2 linked regions of the Homo sapiens genome follow. Each later gene encodes a partner of the first gene's protein in a complex. Each region holds a gene or a part of one and is shown on either strand. Other genes may lie near its edges.

Region 1 (3,925 bases):
TGAAAGAGGTACTACTATGAATAAAATGCTACCAAACAGCATTTGCATTCCTTTCATGAAAGGAAGAGTTGACCCATGTAACAAACTACTTTGTCTTATTTTAAGAAATTGCCATAGCCACCTCACCCTTCAGAAAGCACCACTCTGATCAGTCAGCAGCCATCAATATCAAGGCAAGACTCTCCTTCAACAAAAAGATATTATTCACTGACAGTTCAGTCGATTTTTAGCAATAAAGTATTTTTCATAAAGGTGTGTACTTTTTTTTTTAGATATAATGCTGTTGCACACTTACTAGACTACAGTATAGTGTAAACAGAACTTTTCTTTTTCTTTCTTTTTTTTTTTTTTGAGATGGAGTCTCGCTCTGTCGCCCAGGCTGGAGTGCAGTGGCGCAATCTTGGCTCACTGTAAGCTCCGCCTCCTGGGTTCACACCATTCTCCTGCCACCACGTCCAGCTCATTTTTTTGTATTTTTAGTAGAGACGGGGTTTCACCGTGTTAGCCAGGATGGTCTCGATCTCCTGACCTCGTGATGTGCCCGCTTCAGCCTCCCAAAGTGCTGGGAATACAGGCGTGAGTCACCATCCCTGGCCGTAAACAGAACTTTTATATACACTAGGAAACCTGAAAGTTCATGTGACTTGCTTTATTGCAAATATTTATTGTGATATTTGCTTTATTGCTGCGGTCTGGAATCCAACCCTGCAGTATCTCCAAGGTATGCCTGTATAGGGAAAAACATGGTATAATCAGCCCTCTGAATCCTGGGTTCTGCTTCTGTGAATTCGATCAACCACGCATCAAAAATTTTTGGAAAAAAATTGTACCTGTACTGAACAAATAGACATTTTTTCTTGCCATTATCCCCTAAATAATAGAGGATAACAATTACTTACATAGTATACATTGTATTAGGTATTATCAATAATCTAGAGATGACTTAAAATATATGGGAGGATGTACATAGGTTATATGCAAATACTACGCCCTTTTGTATCTGGGACTTGAACATCTGCAGATTTTGGTATCCATAGGAGGGCCTGAAATCAATCCCCCAAGGATACCGAAGAACGACTGTATATATAGGGTTCAGTACTATCCTTGATTTCAGGTATCCACTGGGGGTCTTGGAATGTATCCTCTGCAGATAAGAGGGGACTACTATAGTCTTTGAGAAAGAAGTGTGTGTTACTGTTTTGAAGCCACATCTCTGCACTTTAAAGCTGATCCATATGATATTGCCACATTTTAGTTTAAAGTTTATCCATATATTGTTGTATTTTTTATTGTATACTCTAGACTTTGTATGAAACAAACCTACTAGAATGTAAGCTTAATGATGTCGGGAACATTGTCAGTCTTGTTTATCACTCTACCCCCAGAACTTGAGAGTACTTGGTAAATATTAAATGAATCAATTAACAATTTTTTGAAGTGCATAGCTCATTTTAGAAAAATTTGCATTAAAGTGTTTAAAATATACTCACAACCTTTCTTTGCATTGTTGAAACAAATGAGATATTCTATAGTCTAAATGTGTAATCCTATGTTTACTGTTCTTTCTGGGTAAATTTTTTGGTAGTATAATTTGTTGTACCTAATTGGAGTGTATTTTATCTTTCTTTTAAGACACATGCCTGGACATACAAGTCGAGAAGTACTAATCATCTTTAGCAGCCTTACAACTTGCGATCCATCTAATATTTATGATCTAATCAAGGTAGACCAAAAAATCAAAACCAAAGTTATAACTGTAAAGAGAATTCTGTAGCAAATTGATTTATATATATATGTATTTTTGTATGTGTGATTCATCTTTGTGGTAGATGTATTGAATTTATTACTAGTTTTCAGAGCATTCTTTATTTTTCAAATACATTAAATCTTAAATGTTTTTCTTCTTTCCTAAAACTATCTATCTACTTGGATTTTATGAAGACCCTAAAGGCAGCTAAAATTAGAGTATCTGTTATTGGATTGTCTGCAGAAGTTCGCGTTTGCACTGTACTTGCTCGTGAAACTGGTGGTATATATATAATTTATTTAATATTTGCTTATAATTACTGTGTAGGAAATAATTTATTAATTAAATTAGGATGTTTTAATCTGTTCTGAGCTACTAAACTTAAAGTAGTCTAAAATATGGGCAGTCATCTTAAATATATCATTGATTCCATAAGAAATCATCTCCAAATGCAAAGAGTTTTCAGTACTTATGTCAGTATTTAGAGGAGGTATTATAACTCTTGGAAAGCTGGAAATTTTACTGTATGTAATTCTTTATAAAGATTTTATAACTTGTCTTTAATTAAATTGTAATTACAGGCCAGGCATGATAGCTCATGCCTGTAATCTCAACATTTTGGTAGGCCAAGGCAGGAGAATCACTTGAGGCCAGAAGTTTGAGATCAGTCTGGTTAACATAGTGAGACCTGTCTCTATTTATATGTTAAAATAATAATAATAGTAATAATAATCAATTGTAATTATAGTTATTCCTAGAGAAGTTGATTTAGATATATTACTTAAATAAGGTTTTAAAAGTGATAATTTAGCTAAAATCATTATTTTAAAAATGTACATTTTCAGATGATACAACTTTTACAGAATTACATAGAACGTACAGTTCGTTATGTCTATGAAGGTGTTTTTTTTTCCCTTTTCATCTTGTTAGGCACGTACCATGTTATTTTAGATGAAAGCCATTACAAAGAGTTGCTCACACATCATGTTAGTCCTCCTCCTGCTAGCTCAAGTTCTGAATGCTCACTTATTCGTATGGGTAAGTGTTTTTATGTTTTTAAAAAATACATATCTAGGCTCTCCATTTTCATTTGCACAAGTTATTTTAATATTTAAGAATTTTTAAAGAAAAAATATGCTTGTTGAAGCAATTTTGGAAAGTACAGAGAAGTGGAAAAAAAAAATTAAAACTACCAGTAGTCCTGTCACCCAGAAAATACTGTTGGCTTTCTTTATTTTTAAGGCTAGAAAGGTATAAACTGTGTTTATAGAAAAATACTTATATTAAGCCGGGCTCGGTGGCTCACGCCTGTAATCCCAGCACTTTGGGAGGCCGAGGTGGGCGGATCTTGAGGTCAGGAGATCGAGACCATCCTGGCTAACACGGTGAAACCCCATCTCTACTAAAAATACAAAAAATTAGCCAGGCGTGGTGGCGGGCGCCTGTAATCCCAGCTCCTCGGGAGGCTGAGGCAGGAGAATGGCATGAACCCGGGAGGCAGAGCTGGAAATGAGCCGAGATCACACCACTGCACTCTAGCCTGGGCGACAGAGCGAGACTCTGTCTCAAAAAAGAAAACAAAAGAAAAACACTTATATTAAAAATTTTTTAAAATAAGCTACAAAGGCCGGGCGTGGTGGCTCATGCCTGTAATCCTAGCACTTTGGGAGGCCGAGGCTAGCGGATCACCTGAGGTCAGGAGTTTGAGACCACCCTAGCCAACATGGCGAAACCCTGTCTCTACTAAAAATTACCAAAAAATGGCTGGGCATGGTGGCAGACATCTGTAATCCCAGCTACTCAGGAGGTTGAGACAGGAGAATTGCCTGAACTCAGGAAGCGGAGGTTGCCATGAGCTGAGATTGCGCCACTGCACTCCAGTCTGGGTGACAGAGCAAGACTCTGTCTCAAAAAAATAAAATAAAATAAAAATAAAATAAGCTACAAAATTCTCTGTACTGGATGATCAAAGCTGTGTAATGCAAACTGTGCAAAGACAAAGCTTGCAGGGAAGTACACCAAATTGCTCAAAGGAGGGGAAATTATTGGTTTTGGATCACTTTTTTTTTTCTTTTTTTTTTTGAGATGGAGTCTCATTCTATTTCCTAGGCTGGAAGTGCAGTGGTGCGATCTCAGCTCACACTGCAACCTCCGCTTCCCAGGTTCAAGCAATTCTCC
Region 2 (3,925 bases), on another chromosome or scaffold:
CACAATGATATTACTGGCAAATCTTATTAGACAGGTCAAGATTCCCCACTGGTGCAGTGACTGATACTTTTGCAAAGTTCCCAAACTCTCAGGTCTATGGTCACTCTGCAATTGGTATTTCCTGCCAAATGGACTTATTACCTTGCCAATCATGGTAGACAAATCTCCATCACTCAGAAGAGGATTCTGAGAATCTCCAACTCGAGATGGATCTTTTGTTGCTTTGTCATTGCTGAAAGTTCGCCATTCAGATCCCACATCAATAACCCGGTCACCTAAGAATATAAGCACATATCTGAATCATTTTGTCAAGATAGGGTTTACTTAACTACACTGTCCAATGCCCAACTAAGCCATTTTATTCCCAGGAAATCTCAACATGGACATCTAGGACCAAGCTTAAATATCACATTTCAGACATTTGTCCTAAAGCATTCCTTTAACTATTGTGCCAATCTAACAATAATCCTCTTGAAACATTATGCTATGATATTCTAACTCTTGGAAGAAAAAGTATTAGTCAAAAGTAGCAAAGTACAGCTATTCATATGTGATGCAAAGGTAAACCAATGTAATAATGATTAAGAACCAGATTTTGCACAAAATTTGCAATAGGCATGGGAAAAAAAGAGAAAACATTTTTTAGAATGGTATTAATGCAAATAATTTCATATTAAAATGTCACTAAGTTTGCGTGGGAAATGCTTCGCAGAAAATAAGCCTAAGCTTCTGTTTCAAAGTAACAATCTGATGAAAAACATACCTGGCCAAATAATTTATACAGAATAAACCTCAAGCCTAGAATCCGTGAGAAGAAAGCCTGGTAGGCAAACTTTTCTCTTTAAGCAAAGAGGCAGCATCTAAATATATCATGTCCAATAAAAGCAGACACAAGTAAACCTTATTATTACTGTTTTGGTGAGAAAGCTCAATGTCTGGCAATACCTTCAGAGTAGACAAAAGTTAACACTGAATACTTAACACATACTACTCACTGTGCCCTTTTGTAAATGTTCTCACTTAATCTTCACAGCCTTATAAAGGTAGGTACCAATTTTATTGCCACTTTACAAATAAGATTAACTAGCCTAAGATCACATAGCTAGAACTGAAACGCACATCAGAGTTTGTTCTACACTCCAATTGTAAAACATGACCTTTTTCAGTGAAGTGTGATGAAGCTGAAAGTAGGAAGGAACCAGACCATTTCATCTTTGTGTATACACAGCAAACAGAAAGAAACAAACGGCAGAAACCAGTTACTGTAGCAATTAGAAGTTACGGTACTAGCAGTCAATTAATATAATAGTCAGGGGTGTGAACTCTGCCCTTTGCTGCTTAGCCTTGGAATATTACTTCATTTCTATGTCTTTATTACCTCAGCTCTAAAATTCTCTTTAACCTCATATTTTAAAGATTATAAAGACTAAGCTATTATAATACCCATGTACAGTGCATGTAAAGTGCTTAAAAAGTAGTACTAAGTGCTCAATATTCACTATTTACTGCTATGAAAATTAGAAAGATAGCAAATATTCTGAGTTTCTCCTTTTTTGTGGGGATGATAAGGGAGACGCATCAGTTTAAAACATTAATCTCCAGCCGGGTGTGGTGGCTCAGGCCTGTAATCCCAGCACTTTGGGAGGCCGAGGCAGGCGGATCACCTGAGGTCAGGAGTTTGAGACCAGCCTGACCAAGATGGAGAAACCCCGTCTCTACTAAAAATACAAAATTAGTTGGTCATGGTGGCACATGCCTGTAATCCCAGCACTTTGCGAGGTCCAGGCGGGCTGTCACCTGGTTGGGAATTTGAGATCAGCCTGACCAACATGGAGAAACCCTGTCTCTACTAAAAATACAAAATAGCTGGGCGTGGTGGCACATGCCTGTAATCCCAGCTACTCAGGAGGCTAAGGCAGGAGAACTGCTTGAACCTGGGAGGTGGAGGCTGTGGTGAACTGAGATCGCAACAAGAGGGTAACAAGAGTGAAACTCCATCTCAAAAAAAAAACAAAACAAAACAAACAAACAAACAAAAATTAATCTCCATAGAAGACTTTAAAAGCTTCCAAGTGCTCCGCTAAGTATTTGATCAGGAGGACAGCAAAGAACAGAGAAAACGGAAGGAATTCCACCTAGACTATGCTAACTTTTTAATTTTTTATATAAAAATTAATTTAAATGCTCATAAACAACCAGAGTATAGTGATCATATAATCTTAGTGATAGATTTAAAAAAAGGCTGGGCATGGTGGTTCACACCTGTAATCTTAGCACTTTGGGAGGCTTAAGCAGGAAAATCACATGAGCCCAGGAGTTCAAGACCAGCCTGGGCAACATGGTGAAACCCTGTCTCTACAAAAAAATACAAAAACAAATTAGCTGGGCGTGGTGGCATGTGCCTGTAGGGAGGCTGAGGTGGGAGGATCACCTGAGCCCAGGAGGTTGAGGCTGCAGGGAGCCATGATTACACCACTGCACTCCAGCCTAGGTGAGGGAGACCCTGTCTAAAGTAAGCAAATGCTCAAGAGAATGATTCATTTCTGAAGCCTCTGACAAAATTTTTCTTTTTTCTTTTCCTTTTTTTCAGACAGGGTCTCACTCTGTTGCCCAGGTTTGAGTACAGTGGTGCAATTTTGGCTCACTGCAGCTTTTGCCTCTGGGGCTCAAGCAATACTTCCACCTTAGCCTCCTGAGCAGCTACAGATATGCACCACCACTGCCTGCCTGGCTAATTTTTGTATTTCTTGTAGAGATGGGGTTTTGCCATGTTGCCCAGGCTAGTCGTGAACCCCTAGGCTCAAGTGATCCACTCACCTCGGCCTCCCCAAGTGCTGGGATTACAGGGGTGGGCCACCATGCACAACAGAAAAACTTTTCTTTAAACAACTGAATCACCAAGGTAAAAGCGGATTATCAGTTGGACTACCATGTGTCCACATTACAAAGGGATTGAGATTAGAGGCAGAGTTCCCATGTGCCATCCCTGTATGCAAGGAGAACACGCAAGGAAGGCAGAAGCAGGACAGTAAGTTAGAAGGCAATTTTAATACATCACACATTGAGCAGGTGGCCCGAAACAAGGAGAAAAGCGTTAGATGGATGGCATTACAAGGATTTATCTGTTTCCTCTTCCTCATAATAAACATCACTAAACTTAGGAAGCAGTTTGAATTATGCAGATTTTAAAAAGATACTTAAAAGTATCATAAATTGTCATTGTGCACTGAAACCTTACCAAACCACTGTGCAGTGAGTACTATTCACCAACAAGCCCATGTCTCAAAGAGATCACACTAAAGAGATCAATTTTTCTTCCTTTTTACAAAATATTTGCTCACTAAAAGATACGTTAGAAAAAAATTACCTGCATTCCCAATACCCAATGACCACTATATTTTCATATATGCTCTGTGTTTTTCGTTCATATGTATGCACCTACGTTTTCCTAAAATTTAGATACTGTGCCTGTTTCATGACAAGCTCTTTTCATTAAATTTATCATAAACACCAGCATGGTATTTTTAGACAGAATTTAGTCCCTTTAATAGCATCCACCAATTAAAGTGATACCATGGTGTTCCCATGCACTTATGTCCAAAGACAGAAAAGACAATCTAACTTTCCTATTTGGCAAAATAAAAACACAAACATGCATAGAACAAAAATAACCGTGGCCTTCAAACCCAGAGTTACTAAATTTTAAGCTAAAAAAAATCAACAAATGTCATCAATAACTTGCAATATTTTTATTAACATACATGAATGTATCAAGAGAATGGCATAAATGAAAAGGCAGGAAGGTATGCCCACATCTTTTAAGTCTCTCTAGAAATCTAAAGATAAACCATTAGTTAGCTAAGATGCTTCATTTCATAGCATTTTCTGAAATACCTTACCATGAGATTCATTTGCTGCCTGCTTT

The links.
Region 2: GTF2H2 (region 1) and GTF2B share a complex: the UniProt entries of both Homo sapiens proteins name them as parts of the TFIID-containing RNA polymerase II pre-initiation complex.

Annotation. Positions count from the first base shown.
Region 1 is NC_000005.10:71,046,866-71,050,790, reverse strand, and holds part of GTF2H2 (general transcription factor IIH subunit 2), read left to right. Parts: intron 1-1,632; coding exon 1,633-1,723; intron 1,724-1,941; coding exon 1,942-2,029; intron 2,030-2,677; coding exon 2,678-2,785; intron 2,786-3,925. UniProt on the Homo sapiens protein: Component of the general transcription and DNA repair factor IIH (TFIIH) core complex, which is involved in general and transcription-coupled nucleotide excision repair (NER) of damaged DNA and, when complexed to CAK, in RNA transcription by RNA polymerase II.
Region 2 is NC_000001.11:88,863,840-88,867,764, forward strand, and holds part of GTF2B (transcription initiation factor IIB), read right to left. Parts: intron 276-3,925; coding exon 142-275; intron 1-141. UniProt on the Homo sapiens protein: General transcription factor that plays a role in transcription initiation by RNA polymerase II (Pol II). Involved in the pre-initiation complex (PIC) formation and Pol II recruitment at promoter DNA.